Homo sapiens: one gene and its partner. The protein of the gene in region 2 interacts with the protein of the main gene of each other region in a pairwise test. Each region holds a gene or a part of one and is shown on either strand. Other genes may lie near its edges.

Region 1 (7,286 bases), on a different chromosome or scaffold from region 2:
TCTGAAATGTGGCCGGAGAGCCTGCATTTCAGCAAGCTCCCAGGTGCTGCGGCTGCTGGTCTGTGGACCACACTTTAAGTAACAAGGCTTCAAAGTCCAAGGGGTCCTTTCTGGGGCTCCAGCCTACTGACAAAGTTCTGACAGCTCCTTGGGTTGTCAGTTCCAGAGCCTGGCCCTCAGGATCTCAAGCCAAGGCTTGTATTCTTGGTGAGTCTTTGAGGGCAGAGCTGCTCAGAGAATCACATGCTGTAGCTCGATGCCCGGTACTGGAAGGGTTTTACATGTATCTGTGTAGTCCCGTTCTGTCTAGGCCTCCCTCCAGAGCAGAGCTTGTTTGGTCAGGCTGAGGGGCACATCTGTTTGGTGAGGATTTCTGCTGTGTTTCCCTTTTCAGAGGAAGCTCAAGGGGACTTACCAGGTACTGAGTTCCCAAGTCTGGGCTTTGGAAATGGCGACAGCTCTGGGGGAAGCGGCTTAGGAGAACTTTGATCAGGCTCTGGTACCAGGAGACCGTCATGGATAGGAAGCAGTCCTGAGGGAGGAGCCACAGGCCTGAGTCTTCTGTGCCAGTCACCTCAGATTCCTGTGCCCTCTGCCCTGGCTGCCAGTGGAATTCCTGGCACCTATCCCAGCTCTTTCGGGAGCCCACAGTTCCTTACCAGCTGGGGGTCGATGTCCCCAATGGATTTGGCATGGACTGCTTCTAGGAGTTCCTCCAGCTCTGCCAGGGCCAGGCGCCCCCCTAGCCGCAGTCGATCAGGCCCCGGTGGCTCCAGCAAGAAGAGGCGCTTCCAAAGGGTGTCCCGACGGCAGTGCCCTCCAGCCAGCCGCACCAGCTGAGCCAGCCGTGCTCGTGCCATGCCCACCTCTGCAGCCAGTGGTGGGAACAGAGGAGCCGGTCCAGGCGCTAGAATAAGCCCTGAGGCCTCCCCAGGGCTGCCAGCTGAACTCCCAGGAGCCTCTGGCTCAGGGGGCAGTCTGGGTGGCTTCCGGAAGCGGCGCATGTCAGCAGTGAGCCTGGGGAAGAGCTCTCGCTGGCTGGTGAGCACCACGAAGAACTGTAGCCTGGGGTGGGGAGCAGGGCAGGAGAGTGGTGGTTGTAGCAAGAGACACACAGGGCAGGGTGGGGCAGGCTGGGAAATGGGCATGTTCAAGGTAGGGGATCTGCTGACCGCAGAACGTGCCGCTCAGCCTCTCCTTGCTCCTCAAAGGGTGCAGCACAGTGACAGACAAGCAGAGACACATCAAAGTCATCCTGGTGTCGAAGTCCCTCAGAGTCCAGGTAGGAGCCAGAACTGTGCAGGACGGGTTGGGGAGATGTCAACTCTGGGGTTCTAATAAAACAAACCTCACCCCTGCCCAAGAAAACATTGGTCTCCCTACTGCAAGTATGTCCCAACCCCAGCTCCTGCAGCGTGCATGCTGGATGCCCCTCTCAGCCTTACCTGTGCCATGCCGACACCAGGGCATACTCGTTGTGTTCTGGGCCCCCTGGCCGGGCCATTCGCAATGGCTTCATGTGGTAAGAGCTGGCGTGATCAGCCACGTAGTTGTATAGCTGGTGGGCAGCAATGAGTGGTGTGGGGAGCTCCAATGTCCCTGAGGGATAAGTAACAGGAGACAGCAGACACTAAGCCTAGGACAGACACACTGGTCTGGTGGGGCACAGGGATGGGAGTCTTTAAGGCTCTGACTGGCAGGCAGAGTGGGTCTGCTTTCCTTAGGAGCTCCTGCATTCCTGTGGAACACTGAGATGGGACAGAAGTGACTCAGAGGGCAGGGGACATGTGACATGGGGTCCAAACTCTGGTAAGAAACAGACACAGGACAGAAACATGGGGACGTGGTATGTGTGACATGAGATGATTAACAACATGGGACCACTTGTCCAGGGAGGTGGTCCCACCAGCCCTGACCTGGAGGCACCTGTGGCCTGTTCTTTTTTGGGTTCACTGGCTTGCCCTTGGGCACTGACCTTGGTAAATGTGATTGCGGCCAAAGTGGGGTCCGTCAGGGTGGTGGGCCAGGAAGTGTCGCAGAAAGGTGGTGAGGTGGTAGCCGTGCCGCAGCACCAGATGGGCACCTAGCACGTGCTGATGCACGAGGCGCAGATGGAAGTCATAGCTGAACGAGTGCACGTGCATCAGGTCCCGCACCTTGTCACACTCCTCTGTGAACAGCATGGACAGCTGGGGAGGCAGCAGCAGGAGACAGGGTTAAGGTATGGCTGCACTGGCTGCCCAAAACACATTTCCCTCCTTCCGTGGGAAGAAGCACAAGATTTCCCCTGCTGCTGTGGCCTAGTGGAACGCCCTCTGCCAGAATGGTTTCTGTGGGAAGGCCTCCCCATTCTAGCCTCCCTTTTTCATACTGTATTGTAACTATCTCCATGAAACTAGGGCCATTTTCAGAAACTGGGCCATTTTGCTCTATCCCAGATTCCATCAGGGTCTGCCACAGACTCTAGATGACTACAGGCCAGACCAGGCACTGTGCTGCCTCAGGGCTACAGCTGAACACGCTTTGGATGACCGATGGGGTCAGCCTTGTAGTGAGTGCAGTCATGGCACCAGAATGAGCACTGACCTAGCCAGGCCATAGCAGTGAATCAATCACTGGGCCAGCCCGCCTACTGCATTACTCTACTGCCCAGCAAATGGGACATGGAGCCATGCTGCCCACAGCACACTGGGGTGCACTGACTGTGCCCGCAGCTCATTCACATACCTGTGAGTTGACAGCCTGCCCCATTGGGATTCGGGAACATTCCAGGGCAAACTGTTTGACACAGAAGTAACAGCCCTGGAGGGAAGGTGAAGATGAGATCAGGAAGGCGAGAGACAGGTGGGTCTGGCTGTCTCCACTCAGTGCTCCTCCTGCTTACCTGGAATGCCAGTTCCATGAGGATGATGCCCCCAGGCAGTGCCCGCTGCAGGTGGTAGGTGGTTACCGGAGAGCTAGTGCTCTGAAGAAACAAAAAAGGGGGCAAGGTTTGGGGGCTCACCAGCCTCGAATCAGTAGGGTGGAAGTCCCTTGGACCCTGACTTTAATGGTGTCAGTCTGGGATCAGTGACCTCGGTACATCACTCAGGGTCAATGACCTCAGGCCGTGGGAAAGTAATTTAGCATCAGTAACTTTACCATTATATGACAAGTTACCTTGGGGCTCCCATCAGTCTTGGTTTTAGGGCAGGAGAAGGAGCCTCGACCCTCTGTTCCAAGGATAGCCATGGCCCGTGGCCGGCTGGTGCTATAGAAAAGGAGGAGGGATAAGAGGATGAGGCAGGCTAGTGGCATGCAGTCATGGTGATCAGACCCAGAATCTGTTTTATATGGAATCATTTTGCAAGGGAGGAAACAGACCCACAAAGCTGCCACTGTGAGTGGCAAGGCTGGGCTTGGAGTCCAGGTCTAGACTGCAAGGCTGGGCTCTCTCCATAGCAGCTGCTGCTTCAAGGGAGGCAAAAACAGTGCTCAGTGGGGAGGTGGAGACTAAGCCTCTGCTACTGAGAGGGTGTGTGCTGGGCAGGAAAGAGAAGGGGGAAGGTGATGCCTGTCTACAATTTGATTAGGAAAATTCAAGGAGATGCTTGATGCCTGGTTAGGTACCTTCCTCTGAAAGGGCAAAGCTGCTGTCTTTTGATTGGGGGGGATGGCAGTTCCAGGCTTTCAGAGGCCTACTGCTCGTTACAGTTTAGTGCAGAGGATAGGGGAGAAGGGAAGCAGGGGAGGGACTGGGAAGAAGGGACAGAACAGAAGGGGTTGGGGGGACCCACTCACGCCAAGGGGCTATAAACTGCCAGAATTCTTGCTGGGGGTCAAAACCTCTGGTGGAAAAAATGTCCCATTTAAACCTCAAGGAAACTGGGACAAGACTTAGTGATTGGTGATTGTTAAAGATTGGTGGGAAGGGAAGACCTGGCTTTAAATTTTGCTGTAGAAACATTTTTTTTTTTAACCCAGTGTCTAAAGGAATTCAGATTTGGGGGAAAGAGCATAACTTATGGCAAGTGTGCAAACTAAAGTCCTTTAGAGAAGCTCCTAGAGCTGGGAACTGGCTGTCAAGATAGCAAGCTGGGCAGCTCCTCCCCAGGGTAGGAGGGGCCAGCCTGGCCTCTGAGATGGGATCACAGGAGGGGCAGGCACGCCTTCTCTTCCTAATGCCTGGAAGAGAGGGAAACCTGGGGAGTGGGGAGCTGGTCACAGAAACATGAGAGAGTTGGAACTGGCATTTCTGGACTACTGGCTTGAAAAGGTTCTAACTGAAAACAGAGAGGAGGGAGAACATGCCTTGATAAACTCACAAATCTGGAGACACGAAAGTAGCTATGTGTAAGGTGAACAGCTCATTTTTCGCATACAGCCACTGGGAAAGGGCAGAGAACACAGAATCTGGAGAGGAACATAGAGCAGGGGCCACAAACACGGGAATCTGAGATTTGACAGTGGATGAAAAGGTGGCTGCAGAGTTGTCCCTGAGCTCAGGGGAGATGGAGGTGGCAACAGACGGGCTGCCTACTTCCCAAGACTCAGACCTGTCAGTACTGGCCAGTGGGTGAACATGACCAAGAACAGGCCAAGGACAGTGATGCAAGTAGGCCTAGCACAGAGGTCCTTGGTGAGAAAAGGACTTCCCTGGGCCGAGAACTACATCAAATCTCAGGAGAGGTCAGTGGGATGATAAGGACAGGAATCATTAAGTCCTAGATCCAGAGGCTTAGGAGCATGTACAAGATTCACATGTGCAGGCCGGGCGTGATGGCTCACACCTATAATCCTAGCACTTTGGGAGGCTGAGGTGGGCGGACTACCTGAGTTGAGGAGTTCAAGACCAGTCTAGGCAACATGGTGATACCCCATCTCTACTAAAATACAAAAAATTAGCCAAGCAGGGTGGCGTGCACCTGTAATCCCAGCTACTTGGGAGACTGAGGCACAAGAATTGCTCGAACCCAGGAGGTGGAGGTTGCAGTGAGCCGAGATCGCGCCACTGCACTCCAGCCTAGGCGACACAGTGAGATTCCATCTCCAAAAAAATTCACATGTGGGGATGTATGCAAGTGTGTAAGTGTACAAGATGTGTGTGGGCATGAGCTTTGTGAAAATGGACACAGTTTTGTATGAGTGTCATCATGAGTTCCATAAAGCATACAAGGTCTGCAGGACACGCATGAGGGCTGTGTGAAAGTATCTGAGACCCTCACATGAGTGCAAGCCTGGTGGGATAAACATGCACAGGCCCAGCCCAAATTGTCAACATAGGACCTTGTAAAGAGAGGAAGGGCCTGTGGGGCCTCACTTGCAGTGCAGGAGGAGAAGACAGAAGGGAAAACAGGGACGGGCTCACCTGCGGGCGGGTGAGGGGGGCCGCAGTGGTACCAGCACAAAACCTATGCTCTGCAGATACTGCACATATTGCTGCAGGAAAGCCAAGCTCAGCTCCTTCAGCCAAGGCTCCTCACGGGCTCCCGGGGGCGACACATCCAAGGATTCACAGCTTGTGGGGGCCTCTCGGCTCCCAGACCCTGACTCAGGGCGATGGCGCCGCTATGAGAGTAAAGATCAAGGAAGACTCTCCCCACTGTCAACCATCCTGCTGGGGATGGAGGAGGGGGGTCACTGTGGGGTAAGCAAAGGTCTGCTAGAAGTCTGGGAGTCAGCCTTACCTGCCCGTCAGGGGGTCCAGAGGTCTCTGGGGGCCCATGCAGCCAGGCAGCTGGGTCGAAGAGCATGGCTGTTGCACAGTAATGCACCAGGCGGGATGACTGCTTCAGGGTCTCCAGCTCTCCAGCCTGGGGAAACAGGGCAGTGAGCATGGAGCAGTGACGGGGCAGGATCACAGATACTCAAGGAAGATGCAAGCTGGGGTCACTCACACTGATGGGCATGGTGGCTGGGGTAGAACGCTGCTGCCAGGTTACAAACAGGTTTTCCATCTTCATCTGGCGCTCCAGCTCTGAGGGTTGAGGGCATTAGTAGTAGCCCCAGGCATTGTCACTCCCTTCCTCCCAGACTCCACAGATTTCCTGTCCCTGCTGCCTGGCCCAGTACCCTCACCTCTGCGCTCTGCCATCTTGATCTCTAGGAACTGTTGTCCATGGTAGGTGACAGGATCAGGAGGTCTGGGCACAGGACCAAGTACGGAGCTGGGGCGGGCAGCCGTGATATCCCTTAGGGCCTCGTCAAAGGGGAATGTGTCCAGGGGAAGAGGACCCCCACCACGAGAGGACCCACTCAGTCGGCCCTGCTCACGGCTCAGCGGGGGACTTGCACTCCGGATGAGGGTCTCCACTTCCATGGTCGGCAGCAGGAATGGGTTTGGCTCCTGAGAGATGGAGCATTGCAATGGGTTCATAGCCTTTGCCCTCGGACCCTCTCTCTCATCCCAGGGCTTCCTCTCTCAGACTCTCCCTCCCCACTACCTCTGCCCTCAGTCTGTCCCATCTTTCTGGCTTCTGAGCTGGTTTTTCCTTTAACTGACCCCTCAGTAGCCAAAACTATAGGAAGAACCAGAGCAGCAGGCACCTTTTCATCTCGCACGGGGAAGTCCAACTGGCCATAATGATGGAAGAGGCCAAGCTTCTGGCTGAGTAGGCAGAAGATGAGATGGGCTCGTGCATTCTGCCACTGCACCAGGCGAACCAGCGCTCGGCCCAATGCTGCCCCCAGGTCTGGAGCCCAGTTGTAGGTCAGCAGCTGTAGCTGGAGGTCGGGGGTCAGGGTCAGTGAGATCACGGAACCCCTCTTCCCACCCAGTCCCTGGCCCCATATTTACCTTCTTGTCCACAACCTCTAGTAGCAAGAGCCTCTGCCGGGGAGCATTTCGCCCTGAGCTCCCATCACCTCCTGGCTCGAAGCGCTGCATGGCTTTGGCAGCTACAGGGTGGGGGAGGGGCACAATAGGGGCCTGGGAACAGATCCCCCTTGATCCCACCCTCCCCTCTGCAAGGTTGGAGACCCCACCAGTTACTCTTAGCCTACCCGCCCCCCGCCCCCCCGGGCCATGCCCTCACCCTGCTGTGTTGGTCTCCTCCACTGCAAGAAGTTCCTTCCCAGAAGCAGCAGATGCCGCTCAGCTGCAGGGCGGGGAGAGGGGCCCAGTTGCCCAGGGGAACAAGGGCCGAAGATCTCTGGCTCTGAACCCCTATTGAAAGGGAGGACAGACAGAAAGGCCATCCATGACACCACTCCCTGGCCTAGCCTTCACCTCCCTGGGCCTTGTTTCCACCTCTCCTAGCTCAGCTTCCTCAGGTTTGGCTTCCTGTAGGCCCAGCTTTTAGGAAGTC
Region 2 (3,563 bases):
CAGGGGCTGGTTGGCCACTGGAGGGCGCGACAAGATGGTGAAGGTCTGGGACATGACCACGCACCGTGCCAAGGAGATGCACTGTGTGCAGACCATCGCCTCGGTGGCCCGTGTGAAGTGGCGGCCAGAGTGCCGCCACCACCTGGCCACGTGCTCCATGATGGTGGACCACAACATCTATGTTTGGGACGTGCGCCGGCCCTTCGTGCCAGCTGCCATGTTTGAGGAACACCGAGACGTCACCACGGGAATTGCCTGGCGCCACCCCCACGACCCCTCCTTCCTGCTGTCTGGCTCCAAGGACAGCTCGCTGTGCCAGCACCTGTTCCGCGACGCCAGCCAGCCCGTCGAGCGCGCCAACCCTGAGGGCCTCTGCTACGGCCTCTTCGGGGACCTGGCCTTCGCCGCCAAGGAGAGCCTCGTGGCTGCCGAGTCGGGGCGCAAGCCCTACACTGGCGACCGGCGCCACCCCATCTTCTTTAAGCGCAAGCTGGACCCTGCCGAGCCCTTCGCAGGCCTCGCCTCCAGTGCCCTCAGTGTCTTTGAGACGGAGCCAGGTGGCGGCGGCATGCGCTGGTTTGTGGACACAGCTGAGCGTTATGCGCTGGCTGGCCGGCCACTGGCCGAGCTCTGTGACCACAACGCAAAGGTGGCTCGAGAGCTTGGCCGCAACCAGGTAGGTAGGTGCTGAGCCTGGGGGTCCCTGGGCCACGACCTCAGGGCAGGGGCTGGTTCCTCCGTCAGCTGCGCTCACCCCACCTCAAGCTCCGCAATGGACTCCAGCCAGTCGCACCAACAGGCCTTGCCTTGGTAGCTGAGGGTGTCAGGATCACACAGGGCCAGGGCTCCAGGGTGGGCCAGACCCAGGACTGTCCTCTGAGGGGCGGGGGTCTCGGGAGTCGTGTGGCTCAAGCTCTCTGTTCTTCCCCCCTTGCTTCTGGAGCTCTCCAGGCACCAGCAGCGGTGGAGCCGTGAGCTGCCGTTCCCATGCCCATCTCTAGCTGCCCCGCAAGTCCCCACTGCCCAATTCTGTTTTCCTCTGTGCTGCTGTAGGGCGGGGACCGGGGTTTTTGTCTTTCCCATGAGCCTCAGCTTTCCTACCTGGGGTGGGCCTGGACATTGGGTACTGAGGGCAGCTGAATGCTGAGGGCTTGTGACTGTCCAGGCAGAGAGGGACCTGCATGGGGTGCTGGGTGTCCAGGACGCCCACAAGTGACCAGTGCCCGCCCCTAGGTGGCGCAAACGTGGACCATGCTGCGGATCATCTACTGCAGCCCTGGCCTAGTGCCCACTGCAAACCTCAACCACAGTGTGGGCAAGGGTGGCTCCTGTGGCCTCCCGCTCATGAACAGGTAGATGCCGGGGGCAGCTCTCCCCAGGGGCTGGGGCTGCTCGAGCCCACCCACCCATGGGCCCTTCCTGCCCCCAGTTTCAACCTGAAGGATATGGCCCCAGGGTTGGGCAGTGAGACGCGGCTGGACCGCAGCAAAGGAGATGCACGGAGCGACACAGTTCTGCTCGACTCCTCGGCCACACTCATCACCAATGAGGGTAGGCTGGGGTGGGTAGGGGTGCTGATGGGAGAGGGGTGGGGGTGTCCCAGACGACCCTGAATGCCCGCCCCATTGTCGGGCAGATAACGAGGAAACCGAGGGCAGCGACGTACCTGCCGACTACCTGCTGGGTGACGTGGAAGGTGAGGAGGACGAGCTGTACCTGCTGGATCCGGAACACGCGCACCGTGAGTGGGGGTCCGGGCAGGGTGGGGTTCAGAGGCGGATGGAGGACAGACTCAGAGCCTCCGCTGGTCCCTGCCTTCCAGCCGAGGACCCTGAGTGCGTGCTGCCGCAGGAGGCCTTTCCGCTGCGCCACGAGATCGTGGACACGCCTCCCGGGCCCGAGCACCTGCAGGACAAGGCCGACTCCCCGCACGTGAGCGGCAGCGAGGCGGATGTGGCCTCCCTGGCCCCCGTGGACTCCTCCTTCTCGCTCCTGTCTGTCTCACACGCGCTCTACGACAGCCGCCTGCCGCCCGACTTCTTCGGCGTGCTGGTGCGCGACATGCTGCACTTCTACGCTGAGCAGGGCGACGTGCAGATGGCTGTGTCTGTGCTCATCGTCCTGGGTGAACGGGTGCGCAAGGACATCGACGAGCAGACCCAGGTGTGTGGTGGGCGGGGCCTCCCCCCTGCAGCGCCGCCCCTGGCACCCAGATCCTGACTGCCGGGCGCTCCCTCCCCCAGGAGCACTGGTACACTTCCTACATCGACCTGCTGCAGCGCTTCCGCCTCTGGAACGTGTCCAACGAGGTGGTCAAGCTGAGCACCAGCCGCGCCGTCAGCTGCCTCAACCAGGCCTCCACCACCCTGCACGTCAACTGCAGCCACTGCAAGCGGCCCATGAGCAGCCGGGGCTGGGTCTGCGACAGGTGGGGCAGTGGGGTCGGGAGGTGGGGCAGGGGCCTGCAGGCAGCGCAGCAGCCCCCGCTGAGGCACCCTCCCTCCCGCCCGCCCCCAGGTGCCACCGCTGCGCCAGCATGTGTGCCGTCTGCCACCACGTAGTCAAGGGTCTCTTCGTGTGGTGCCAGGGCTGCAGCCACGGCGGCCACCTGCAGCACATCATGAAGTGGCTGGAAGGCAGCTCCCACTGTCCCGCAGGCTGCGGCCACCTCTGCGAGTACTCCTGACGGGGCATCTGCTGGGCTTGCCCGGGCGGCCGCGTGCAGAACCCCGCCTGGTCTTGTGCCCGAGACGGGCGGAGGCTGGAACTTGAGACCTCAATAAAGGAAGTAGAGCCGCTGTCGGCACTGCGTGTCACCCCATAGCGCGGCGGGCTCGCCGTAGGCCCGCGGGGCAGCTGGCGGGCGGGGGCTTTCGGCGGGGTTGTCGCCATGGTAACCGGCGGCGCCCATAGTCGCTCTCGGGGCGGCCTTCCCAGTGCCTCCCGTAGAGGCCTCTTCCGGGGCGGGCCAAAGGAGGTCACTTCCGGGGTCCGTCCCGGTTCCCGGCCGTTGCCACGACGACGAAGCTGCCGGCCAATGGCTGGCGGATGGGCCCAAGGTTCCCGGCGTGCAGCGCGGCTGCCTGAGGGCGGCAGGCTCATGGCGCCGGCGTCGCGGTTGCTCGCGCTCTGGGCGCTGGCGGCTGTGGCTCTACCCGGCTCCGGGGCGGAGGGCGACGGCGGGTGGTGAGCGGCCCGGGAGGGGCCGGGCGGTGGGGTCACGTGCGGCGGGCGGGGCGCGGGCTGACCCAGCTGTGCCCGCAGGCGCCCGGGCGGGCCGGGGGCCGTGGCGGAGGAGGAGCGCTGCACGGTGGAGCGTCGGGCCGACCTCACCTACGCGGAGTTCGTGCAGCAGTACGTGCGCCCCTGATCGCGGAGGTCGCGTCCTGTTCACCGGCCCGTCTGCCCCGACCGCCCAAGGCCGCCTTCCCCTGACCTCGCGCGCACGCGTGGGGCTGGGGCGGCGAGGCTGGCGGTCCGGCCTGGCCGCGACTCTGCCCTTCTTTCCAGGTACGCCTTCGTCAGGCCCGTCATCCTGCAGGGACTCACGGACAACTCGGTGA

Evidence for each region.
Region 1: the proteins of WDR24 (region 2) and SZT2 interact in binary tests that used the Homo sapiens proteins (3 or more experiments, as listed by UniProt).

Annotation. Positions count from the first base shown.
Region 1 is NC_000001.11:43,441,858-43,449,143, reverse strand, and holds part of SZT2 (KICSTOR complex protein SZT2), read right to left. Parts: intron 7,145-7,286; coding exon 7,014-7,144; intron 6,877-7,013; coding exon 6,776-6,876; intron 6,703-6,775; coding exon 6,526-6,702; intron 6,326-6,525; coding exon 6,058-6,325; intron 5,957-6,057; coding exon 5,877-5,956; intron 5,793-5,876; coding exon 5,667-5,792; intron 5,548-5,666; coding exon 5,348-5,547; intron 3,251-5,347; coding exon 3,160-3,250; intron 2,966-3,159; coding exon 2,885-2,965; intron 2,803-2,884; coding exon 2,728-2,802; intron 2,190-2,727; coding exon 1,976-2,189; intron 1,600-1,975; coding exon 1,446-1,599; intron 1,369-1,445; exon of another isoform or gene 1,296-1,368; coding exon 1,173-1,295; intron 1,066-1,172; coding exon 660-1,065; exon of another isoform or gene 533-659; coding exon 416-532; intron 1-415.
Region 2 is NC_000016.10:683,857-687,419, reverse strand, and holds the end of WDR24 (GATOR2 complex protein WDR24), read left to right. Parts: intron 1-3; coding exon 4-676; intron 677-1,233; coding exon 1,234-1,352; intron 1,353-1,429; coding exon 1,430-1,551; intron 1,552-1,636; coding exon 1,637-1,741; intron 1,742-1,822; coding exon 1,823-2,163; intron 2,164-2,243; coding exon 2,244-2,428; intron 2,429-2,517; coding exon 2,518-2,686; 3' UTR 2,687-2,798; downstream 2,799-3,563. Other genes in the region: JMJD8 (jmjC domain-containing protein 8 isoform 1 precursor), read left to right, coding at 3,101-3,186, 3,265-3,354, 3,511-3,559. UniProt on the Homo sapiens protein: Catalytic component of the GATOR2 complex, a multiprotein complex that acts as an activator of the amino acid-sensing branch of the mTORC1 signaling pathway. The GATOR2 complex indirectly activates mTORC1 through the inhibition of the GATOR1 subcomplex.